Linked DNA regions of Homo sapiens: region 2 is linked to region 1. Evidence: fine-mapped expression QTL. A gene starts in region 1. The other region holds a variant in brackets. All regions are shown on one strand. Distances are between the middles of the regions. Region 1 holds the start of ATP13A3 (ATPase 13A3). Region 2 has its middle 48 kb from the start of ATP13A3-DT.

What was found. PIP is the estimated chance that this variant, and not a neighbour inherited with it, causes the effect. A credible set is the group of variants that fine-mapping cannot tell apart.
Region 2: its variant is the best candidate, but not a certain one, in a credible set for the expression of ATP13A3 in whole blood (GTEx, PIP 0.61).

The regions. Positions count from the first base shown.
Region 1 is chr3:194,484,046-194,489,419 of GRCh38, reverse strand. It overlaps ATP13A3 (ATPase 13A3), which reads left to right and starts at 2,418. Exons shown (of 34, transcript NM_001367549.1): 1 at 2,418-2,854; 2 at 3,585-3,626. ATP13A3-DT (ATP13A3 divergent transcript) reads right to left here and starts at 2,280. Exons shown (of 2, transcript NR_033929.1): 1 at 2,248-2,280; 2 at 875-1,964. RefSeq lists an enhancer at 1,399-1,618 and silencers at 2,289-2,948, 2,979-3,028, 3,119-3,178.
Region 2 is chr3:194,532,043-194,537,416 of GRCh38, reverse strand. It overlaps the pseudogene RNU6-1101P. Among named protein-coding and RNA genes, the nearest start is that of ATP13A3-DT, 48 kb to the right of the region's middle. RefSeq lists enhancers at 103-397, 123-417 and a silencer at 123-417. The variant T/C (reference allele first, on the strand shown) is at 2,110.

The sequences.
Region 1 (5,374 bases):
CCAGAGTGGAGTGCAATGGCGCAATCTCAGCCCACTGCAACCTCCATCTCCCAGGTTCAAGCGATTCTCCTGCCTCAGCCTCCCAAGTAGCTGGGATTACAGGCATGTGCCACCACGTCCAGCTAATTTTGTATTTTTAGTAGAGATGAGGTTTCACCATGTTGTCAGGCTGGTCTTGAACTCCTGACCTCGTGTGATCCACCAGCCTCGGCCTCCCAAAGTGCTGGGATTACAGGCATGAGCCACTGCGCCCAGCCCACCATAGGAATTTGAGGCTTATTAAGGAGGTGAAATAGATAGGACTTGGTGATTGGGTAAGGCAGAGGGCTGAATTAAGAATGACTCACTCATTCCCAACTTTCTAATTCTGATGACTGTGGAGATGGTGGTGCCAACAGCTGAGGGAGGGGCAGCTATGAAAGCAGAGAATGAGTTCAGTTTTGGAAATGTCCAGTTTGGGGTGTCTGTGATATCTAGCTAGAGCTGCCTGGCAGGCAATTGGATATTTGGTTCTAAATTTTGTGGAAGGGGTCTGGGTTGGAAATTGCTAATTTGGGAGCTGCATCCATGAGGATGCAGGCAATCCCAGAAGAATGAGTGAAGTGAGCAAAGTTGTTGGCTTAGAGTGGAATCCTGAATTTAAGGTGCAGATTCACAAGTAGATGTTACCAAGGAGGCAGAGGCTTTACTTACCTTCATGTGATAATCCAGAGGGTTCACTCTTCTGAAACCAAGGTAGTAGAGAGATTCCAGAAGGTGAGAGTCATCCCAAGGTGTCAAATGTAGCAGAAAGAACCAGAGAGATAAGGCCTGAGGAATGCCTGCAAGGTTTGGCAAAATGAAAGTCATGAGTTGCTCTTGCCTGAGCAAGGTGAAGGGTTAGAGTTGGGGAGGAGAAGCCAGAATGCCAAGTGTTGAGAAATGAGGAAGCAGAGGCAGCCAGGGAAGACCATTGTTTGAGGTCCGCATGAAACACTTGGAAGCTAGTTGGAGGGAGCACTTCAGGAGGAGGTTGGCTTGATAATTTTGTTTTTAGGACTTGGAGAGGCCAACCTGTTTAAAGGCTGAGAGGAAGCAGCAAGGCAAGGAAGCCTGGGAGGTGGGGGAGGAAGATTTTAGGGCCAGACCCCACCCAGACCGTTTTCTTGTGGTTTGCCCAACACTACCACACACCCCTTAATCTCATTTAATCATTTCAACACCACGAGGTTTGAAACAAACGGTGAGGTATGAAACAAAACGGTGAGGCCAGGGATTGGGAAGAGAAAGCTGTGGTTCCATCTCGGTCCAGCGTGCTGTCCACGCCAAGAGGCGGGCAGAAATGCTAGCCTCACACAATCTAGGGGACCAGGGGTGGCTGTGGCGCCCTCCTGCCCGCAGGAGGTGTTATCAGTGTCGCGGACTCGGGCGGTGTGCTGCCCCTGGTGAGATGTCATCACGTGCGTGGACCAGGGGTGGCGGCCCTGGTAAGTGTCCAGGGACTAAGGGCTCCCTGCTCTCCAGGTGTGGTGGACGGGGTCCGCATGCATGCCGTCCTCTTCTCTAAGACGCTAAGGCGGCTGAGTTCTGTAAGTAGCGGCAAGAAGAACAGTCACGGAGCGGGCCGGGCACAAAGGGCGCAGGCCAGGTGGCCCCAGGCGGAAAGATGGCCGCAGCCAGAGGCTGCAGGTGGCCGGGCGCGCTCCCTGCGCGCGTCGCGGAGAGGACGCAGCGAAAATCAAACCCGCGATTTGGAAATCCGGCTGCGGCCCTACCCCGAGATAAGTCTTCTGCGGAGGGAAGTATTTAATTTGCATCCAGGACGGTCGGAAGAGGCGCCTTCCCGTCGGAGGCGAGGCGCGGGCGCGTGGGAGCTTTCTCGTGTGCGCTCCTCCCTGTCCTCCGCCTGCGGCCGGGGCGCAGAGTCCGTGGTCATATGAGAATGACAGTTTTTTGTCTGTTTGTTTTGGCGGGGGCGAGGGTGGCTAAAGGAATGAAAGAGCCTTGCATTAGGAGCTGGGCTCTGGTTTCCTCTCCACCATTCTAGCACAAGCTTCCTCCATGACCATGACTCTGGGCAACGTCTGTCTAGTCACTGAGCCTCAGTTTCCCTGTTCATAAAATGGGAGATTGGACTATGATGTTGTCATAGCCCAAAGGGGATGAAGTGGGATTTGCCGTTCCATTTCATCCCACCAGAAAAGCCGCCCTCCATTAGCCACCCCGGGCTGACACCCAGCGTTTTTGGACGGCCTCGCCTCCCCTTACCTGCCTCTTTCTTTCTTTTGCCCGTTCGAGGGTGGCAAAGGCGATGGGTGGGCGGGGCCTATAAATCGCCCCGCCCCTCCCCGCCCCTTCCCCGCCTCCTGACGTCGCCCGCGCCCCTCCGCCCTCCGCGCGGGGATGAAGCCACCACGTGACCTCACATCCGGCGCGGGAGTCCTGAGCCCGCGCGCGCTCCCCCGCCTGCCTGCCGGCTCTCCCCGCAGCGTGATCGGGCGCCGCCGCGGAGGGGAGGGGGGTTCTCTACGTCGCTGGCGGCGGGGGGGCCGTTTCGGAGTGCAGACCGCCCCCCTCCCCTGCCCACCTCCCGCCGCCCTCCCTTGTTCTCGCCCTGCCGGCTGCACGCCGCCGCCGCGGGCGCGGAGGAGGAGGAGAGCGCGGACGTCCCAGGGCCGGCCCGGCCCCGCCGCGGCGCCTCCTTCCCTCACCCTGAGCCGCAGCGCGCGGCGCCGGCCGAGGGCGATGGGGCTGGGCTGAGGCGAGGCGGCGGCGGCGACAGCGGCGGCCGGGTCCCCCGCGGTCCCTGGGGCTGGTCCGGCCGCGAGGGAGGCCGCGGAGGAGGCGGCGCGGCGGCGGCCAGTGAGCGGCCCCGGTGAGCGGGGCGAGGGGCGGGTGGGCAGCGGCGCCGGGGGAGGTCGAGGAGGCGAATGGTGGTGTCGGGGCGGCGGGTACCGGGCGAGGTCGCGGCCAGCCTTCTCGGGCCGGAGTTGGGCATCGCGGGGACGGGGAGTGTCGGGGGCAGGTGAGGCCAGGGCAGGAGCCCACGCGGTGGGTGCGAAGGCCTGGGGGGGACGCGCCGCCTGCCGGGGGCGAGCGTGGGGGCCGGGCGCTTGGTGGTTGGTAGTCAGAGCTTTCGGAAAGTCCTGTGGGAGGTGGAGGTCCTGTGGGCAGAGGCGTAGGGGTGCTGGCAGGGCCCTCGATGAGTCTGTGCGGGACCCTAGCTCGTCCTCAGCCGTGGAGTATGGAGCTGCTTGCCATCTCCGCATTTCACAGATAAAAGGAGTGAGTCCCGTGGAGGAAAAGTGACTTCTGACTTGCCTGAGGCCTCCCACTCGGACTCTGTGGCAGTGAGGACTAGAAAAACCCAGGGCCCTTTGCCCTAGCAGTGCTCTCGTGGCCACTCTCGCTATGGCCTTTCTGTCTCTCCATTCCCTTCACAGAGTCAGGTTCTGGTGGAAGTATGACCTCTGGCTTTTTTGGGGAGGTGAGGGGTAGGGATGAAGGGGGAGGGAATCGGGTTGGGATTGGCAGGAACTCAGCTGGGGGCTTCCCGGTGTGGAAGAAGCTTTGTGACAGGTGTTTATTGTTTCCTCTTCCCATAGATCTGACAGACATCCCTGAATCTTGGTGTTTGGACATAGGAGGTATGAATCACTCACATAATTAGCCGCTTTTAATCATCAGTGTCTTAGAGCTATATTTAGTGGTTATATTAGTGCAAAATGAATGGGTGTGGAGTCGTACACCTAGAAACAGACTTGTGTTCCTCTATACGATTCTAACTAAATGAGTAGAACATACCTGGGTATGTCATGGCTACTTTAGATCTATGAGGCAGGAAGTTAGAATTTAAGGAATCTAAGAAATGCAGGGACTTGAAAGATTATTGCAAAATAAAGCCTTTAAAAAGTATCGTTGTTAAAATGAAAGTGTTTCGATTTGATTCCTTTGAAGGGTGAGTACGTAATGAACAGTGCTCTATCTTTGGTTAGAGCTCAGCCTCTTTACCAAGGTACATGTATTAATTTTGTTTCACTGGAATATATGTGACATTATTTTCTCTAGAGGTTTGTTGCTTTGCTTAATAGACTACAGTTGCCAAAAATCAATGTGTGTGGGCATCTCATCCTGGTTTGCAACCCCTTTAAGGCAAATCAGTGCTTGGAAGTTGTTCGAAGTAGTAAACCTATTATTAATGATTGTTGTAGAACATAACTTTTGCTGGTATCTTTGATTTGCATTATCCTACCATTAGATCAGGCAGAGAGTGAAATAATTGAGATTTTGAGCCTTGTTAGAACAACAATGCCTGGCTTTGGTCAGGGGATTGGGTAGGAAAAGTGACACTATTTGGTTGCTTTAAATTTTTTTTTTTTTTTTTGAGATGGCATCTTGCTCTGTTGCCCAGGCTGGAGTGCAGTGGTGTGAACTCGGCTCACTGTAACTTCTGCCTCCTGGGTTTCAGCGATTCTCCTGTCGCAGCCTCCTAAGTAGCTGGGATTTCAGGTGTGTGCCACCACGCCCAGCTAATTTTTTGTATTTTTAGTAGAGACAGGGTTTCACCACGTTGGCCAGGCTGGTCGTGAACTACTGACTTCAGGTGATCTTCCTGCCTAGGCCTCCCAAAGTGCTGGTATTACAGGCGCTAGCCACCGAGCTTGGCGGTTGATACTTACATAGTTAGTTTAGGTCACCAAATATACAACACACAGAATCCGCTTTGGATAAACCACATTATCGAGCTCATTTTGAAATCCTATTTCTGTCTTCAAGATTTTCGAGATTATAAACCACTTTGTTGTCATTCACAAGTATAAAGTTCTTATTTCCAACATCACTGAGACTGAGAAAAAAGACAGAATAAAGATAAAGTTCCATAGGGCGTCCCCATCACTGCTTATTCTCACTGAGTTTGACCATTGAGTAGGTTGTATATCCATAGTAATATGATATAGTGCCTATGTCCTAAGATTACTATTTATCTTAGGAATAAAGCATATTCATATTCTAAAACCTCATATTCACAGTAGTTACAAAACCACCACGTTATACAAGCATAGTTTGATTCAATATATGGAATGGAAGAAGGAAAGAAACCATTATGTGCCAGGAAAAGTGCTCCTTTCTTTACATATGGTCTCAACTAATCCTCAACACTTTCAGGTAACAATATTCTTCTTTGTTAAAAAAAAAATTAAAGAAGTTAAGGAGCTTACAGTATAAGCGACTTTGAAGACAGACAGAAACCTAGCTCTGTGTTAATGTGCTTAACACAGAGGTTTCTGTCTCTGGGTTTATAAGGTTAGTTGTATGTGACTAGGCAACATAACATCTCTGAACCTCAGATTCTGGTGATAAATCAGATATGTCATCTTAATAGGTGTCACACACT
Region 2 (5,374 bases), 48 kb before region 1:
CCAGGCCCCAGGAAGGGAGCTGTGCCTCCAGAGCAGGCATGCATGTTCTGTCTGGAACACACGAGTATGCAAGTTGCCAGAAAGGTCCCTGGACTCTGTTGTTGTAGGTAGGTTCTTTGCTAGGCAATGGGAATTTAGAGATGGATAAAGCATGATCTCAGCCCTCAAGGAGCTCACAGTGGCTGCTCATTCATAGGCATTCCCTCTAAGCATGAGAAGTCCCAGTGGAGTGGCTAAAATCAAGTTTCTGGACATGTGGAAGTAAGGACCAAATTCTGAATGCTCTCTGGGCCAGAAAAATGCTGTTCTACCAGGAGGGCCTGAAAAAGGCAGCTGGACTTTACCCCTTCCCAGTGCAAACAGTGGACTCTATTGCAGTAACCACTATCCTCTCTAACTAGCACAGGTTTATTAGAATGTTAGAAAATCATTATTTCCTTTTATACTTAACTTGCTGTTGACAGTGACTCTGCACATATTCTCTGGCTGCAGCCCTGAACCAAGAGAGGAAACAGTAGCCTTCAGGCACCTCTCCAGGCTTTAAAATTATAAAATGTATCATATTTAGAGAAAAGTATGTGTACAATCTAAAGATTAAATAACGAGGCCGGGTGCAGTGGCTCACACCTGTCATCTCAGCACTTTGGGAGGCTGAGGTGGAAAGATGGCTTAAAATCAGGAGTTTGAGACCAGCCTGGGCACCTTAATGAGACCACCAGCTCTACACACACACACACACACACACACACACACACACAACAACAACAACAATAACAACAACAACAAAACCAAACTAACAAACAAAACCATAAAATAAAACTAGCAGAGTGCAGTGGCACACACCTGTAGTCCCAGCTACTCAGGAGGCTAAGGCGGGAAGAGCTCAAGAGGCAGCAGTGAGTTGTGATCACGCCACTGCACTCCAGCCTGGGCAACAGAACAAGACCCTCTTTCAAAATAATAAAATAATAGGCCAGGCACAGTGGCTCACGCCTGTAATCCCAGGATTTTGGGAGGCCAAGGCAGGCAGATTACCTGAGGTCAGGAGTTTGAGACCAGCCTGGCCAACATGGTGAAACCCCATCTCTACTAAAAATACAAAAATCAGCCGGGTGTGGTGGCTCACTCCTGTAATCCCAGCTACTCGGGAGGCTGAGGTAGGAGAATTGCTTGAGCCTGGGAGATGGAGGTTGCAGTGAGCCGAGATCGTGCCACTGCACTCCAGCCTGGCCAACAGAGCGAGACTCTGTCTCAAAATAATAATAATAATAATGACAAACACCTATCACCCACTAGTACCTTGAGGCTCAGCTGTGTGCCTCCCTGCAATCTCTGCTTCCCTGGGCACCACATCCTCCCCAGGTACTACCTTTAATGTCAGTCGTTACTGTTTGCTTTATAGTTTTGCCCTCTATATGACATATCCCTAAACAATCTACTGGTTGGATTTGAATAACTGAGTGGCTAGCACAAAGCTAGCTGTGTAAGGAAAGAGCACTGTTGCCAGTATTACATGAGATTTCCTGGGAAAATAAGCTGAATAGAGTTGCTGGGTCATGGAAAACAAGCTGAATAGAGTTGCTGGGTTATAATGTAATTTCAACCTTCCTGAGTCTTTAAAAGCCTCTTCTGGAGAAGTCAGAGGACAAAATCATGATCAAAGAGCAAGGCATGGCGGCATGTGCCTGTAGTCCTAGCTACTCAGGAGGCTGAAATGGGAGGATCACTTGAACCCAGGAGTTCTGGTCCAGTCTGGGCAACATAGTGAGACCCCATTTCAAAACAAAAACAAGGCTGGGCACAGTGGCTCACGCCTGTAAGCCTTTGAGAGGCCGAGGCAGATGGATCACCTGAGGTCAGGAGTTTGAGACCAGCCTGGCTAACATGGTGAAACCCCGTTTCTACTAAAAATACAAAAAATTAGCCAGCTGTGGTGGCGTGTGTCTGTAATCCCAGCTACTCGGGAGGCTGAGGCAAGAGAATTGCTTGAACCCAGGAGGCGGAGGTTGGGGTGAGCAGAGATTGGCCATTGCACTCCAGCTTGAGCAACAAGAGCGGAACTCCGTCTCAAAAACGAAACAAAACAAGAAAACAAACCAGAACAAAACA[T/C]GCATCTATCTTCCTAATTGGAGGGGAGAAAGCCAAAAAAAAAGAAAAAAACAATCGTACACAGGCGCAGATCTAGGATTTGTGGGGTCTGAAGATTATATAATTTGGAGGACCCTTTTGTAAGATTATAAGTTCAAAATTACAAATACTAAATTAGGTACAGGGCCTTGGGGAGGGCATATATGAATAAAGGGCTTCCGTTTCATTAGTTTCAGGTGGATAAGTCTCTAACCATGAGGGTTCACCTGTGTCTGGGCATCTGGCAGATCTGCAGGATGGGCCAGGCACTGAAGACCCTGTAGAAATAGGGTCAGAGGGGGAAGGATGCTTTGTATTTTCTGCTTTTAAGCTCATTAGCCTACATTCAGCTCTCAAGAGTAGGCCTAAAGCACAACACTTCAGAAACGGGCTGTTTTATGAAATGAATACGCTCAGCCGATTCTACCAGCAGAGTGTAGAGAGGTGAGTGGGAATTTCCATAATATGTAATGAAACTGTGACAAATATGGATAAATCGTCCTCAAGTTTGAACAAGGTATGATATCAGTGAGGATTTTTGGGTGATGACAGTTCTCAACCTGTTTCTTGAGTCACAGTTTTCCACATGGAAATGGTTGTTCTCCACATGTTGTACACAGCGATTATCATGGCATTTCCCCTTACTATCCTCCCAGGGAATCTCCTTGCTTCTCTCCTATTTTAGATTCTCCTCCTGGATTTACTTGGTCTTTGCGTGGAGTATCTTCTCCGGTAGCTTATAGAGAAGGAGTGCATGATAGATAAAAGTTTTTGAAATCTTACATACTTGAACATATTTTTTTCTGCTCTCATACTCAATTGATAGTATGGCTGGGTATAGAATTCCAGATTGCAAGTTACATTTCTCAGAATTTTAAAGGCACTGCTTCATTGTGCTTTGGCTTCTAGTGTTGCTGATGCGAAGTCCAAATCCATTTTGCTTCCTAAACTTTGTATATAGCCAATTTTTTCATCTCTAGAGGCAATGAAATCTTCTCTTCCTCCCTAAAATGATGCTGGCTACTTATTGGCTCTTAAATATCACAGTTCATTCTATTGTTGAATTATGACATTGATTGCTTTGTCCCTTCTTTTCTCTTTTTTCTTTCTGGAAACACCGGTATTCAGATATAAGATCCCCTGAACTAGTACTCTTAACTTCCTAACCTTTTGTCTACTATTTTATATCCCTTTATCTTTTTGCTATATTTCCTGGGAAATTTCCCTAATGTTGTATTTCAGCTATTATGTATAATTATTTTTTTCTGCTTAAGCAGATCATTTTTCCTTATATCCTTATCATTTTTTCCTTTCTATGGAAGTATTGTATGCACATTGTTTAAAAATTATACAGCACTCATTTCAATAGCACATTTGATAAAACTGGAATGAGACAGGCCAGGAGTGGTGGCTCATGCCTGTAATCCCAGCACTCTGGGAGGCCGAGGAGGGCAGATCACAAAGTCAGGAGATTGAGACCATCCTGGCTAACATGGTGAAACCCTGTCTCTACTAAAAATAAAAAAAAATTAAAAAAAAAATTATCCCGGCGTGGTGGCGGGCACCTGTAGTCCCAGCTAATTGGGAGGCTGAGGCAGGAGAATGGTGTGAACCCAGGAGGTGGAGCTTGCAGTGAGCCAAGATCATGCCACTGCACTCCAGCCTGGGCAACTAAGCGAGACTCCGTCTCAAAAAAAAAAAAAAAAAAAAAAACTGGAATGAGACAGAAAATTAGCATGGTCCCTGCGCAAGGATGACATGCAAATTTGCAAGGGTTCCATATTTTTAAAAAATCATTACAGAATTCTTTACATAGAAAATTCCATCTAGTAGATCATTGAACAAAAGAGAGACCAGAAATAGATCTACACATACACATGTATGACCTAAACCTGTGGATATGAACCACATTTTATATTTGCTTTTGACAAAGATTTTATATAGCAAGAAATGTGGCTCCTATAGAGAAGCCTGGCCTTTTCCCCATCTCCTGGGAGGTAATCTCTAAACTCTTGGAATTTCCTGAGTGTTAAGGGTGTCTTTGTTATTTGATGGGCCCTTGGAACTACACCTGATATTTTATGCTATAACATGTTGGGGGTGGCCATGGCAGGAAGACCAACTATCTGATAAGACGGTTGGAGCTGGGGGACACATGGTATCAGCTCAACCTCTAGGGAACAGGGGGCGGGAGATTGAGTACAACCACATGGGCTCAACCAATCGTGTTTGTAAGAAAACCTCAATAAAATCTCTGGGCACCAGAGCTCAGGTAAGTTTCCCTGGTTGGGAATACTCTGAACAGACTATCACACATCAGTGCTGGTAGGAAAACACTTTCCTGAAGATAGTGGCAGTTTCATGTTTGCAACCCTCCCAGACTTCACCCTACGTGTCTCTTCCTTTGTCTGGTTCTAATTTATATCCCATTGCTATAATAAAGCTGCAGTGGTACACACAGCACTTTCCTGAGTTCTGTGAGTCATTCTAGCAAAGTACCAAATCTGAGAGTGGTTTTAGGAAGCCGCAAACTCGCAGTTGGTGTCTGAAGTCAGGGCAATCTTATAGGGATTGTTCCGTCTGACTGTGTGGTTTGGGTAACTCCTTACAGATACCAAGGCAATTCACTGAGAAAATGGACTCTTTTGCACATGTCATACTGTAATTATTGATATCCATATGTAAAGAAATGAGCCTCAACCCTTACCTCATAGTATCTGCAAAAACTAACTTGAAATGAAAAGTAGACCGGAATGTAAGAACTAGAACTAGAACTTTTCTAGAATAAAATACAGAAGAACGTCTTTGTGACCCTGGGTTGGGCATATATTAATATATTAAATAGACCACAAAAAGGAAAATATGATGACTAGGTCTTCATAAAAATTTTAAAAATTTGCTCTTCAAATAATACTGTTAAGAAAATGAAAAGGCAAGTCTGGGGTAAAATATCGGCAAAATATGTATCTGTCAAAGTATTTGTATCAAGAATATAAAAAGAATTATTTGGCGGGTGTGGTACCTCATGCTTGTAATCCTAGCACTTTGGGAGGCTGAGGCAGGAGGATCACTTGGATAGTCATTCTAGCAAAGTACCAAACCTGAGGGTGGTTTCAGGAAACCCCCAAATTTGCACACTTACAAACTTGTAAAAAAATCCAATTAGAAAACGGGTAAAAGACATGAACAGACATTTCCTGAAGAAGCTATACAGATGGCAAATAAGCACATGAAAAGAGTTCAACAT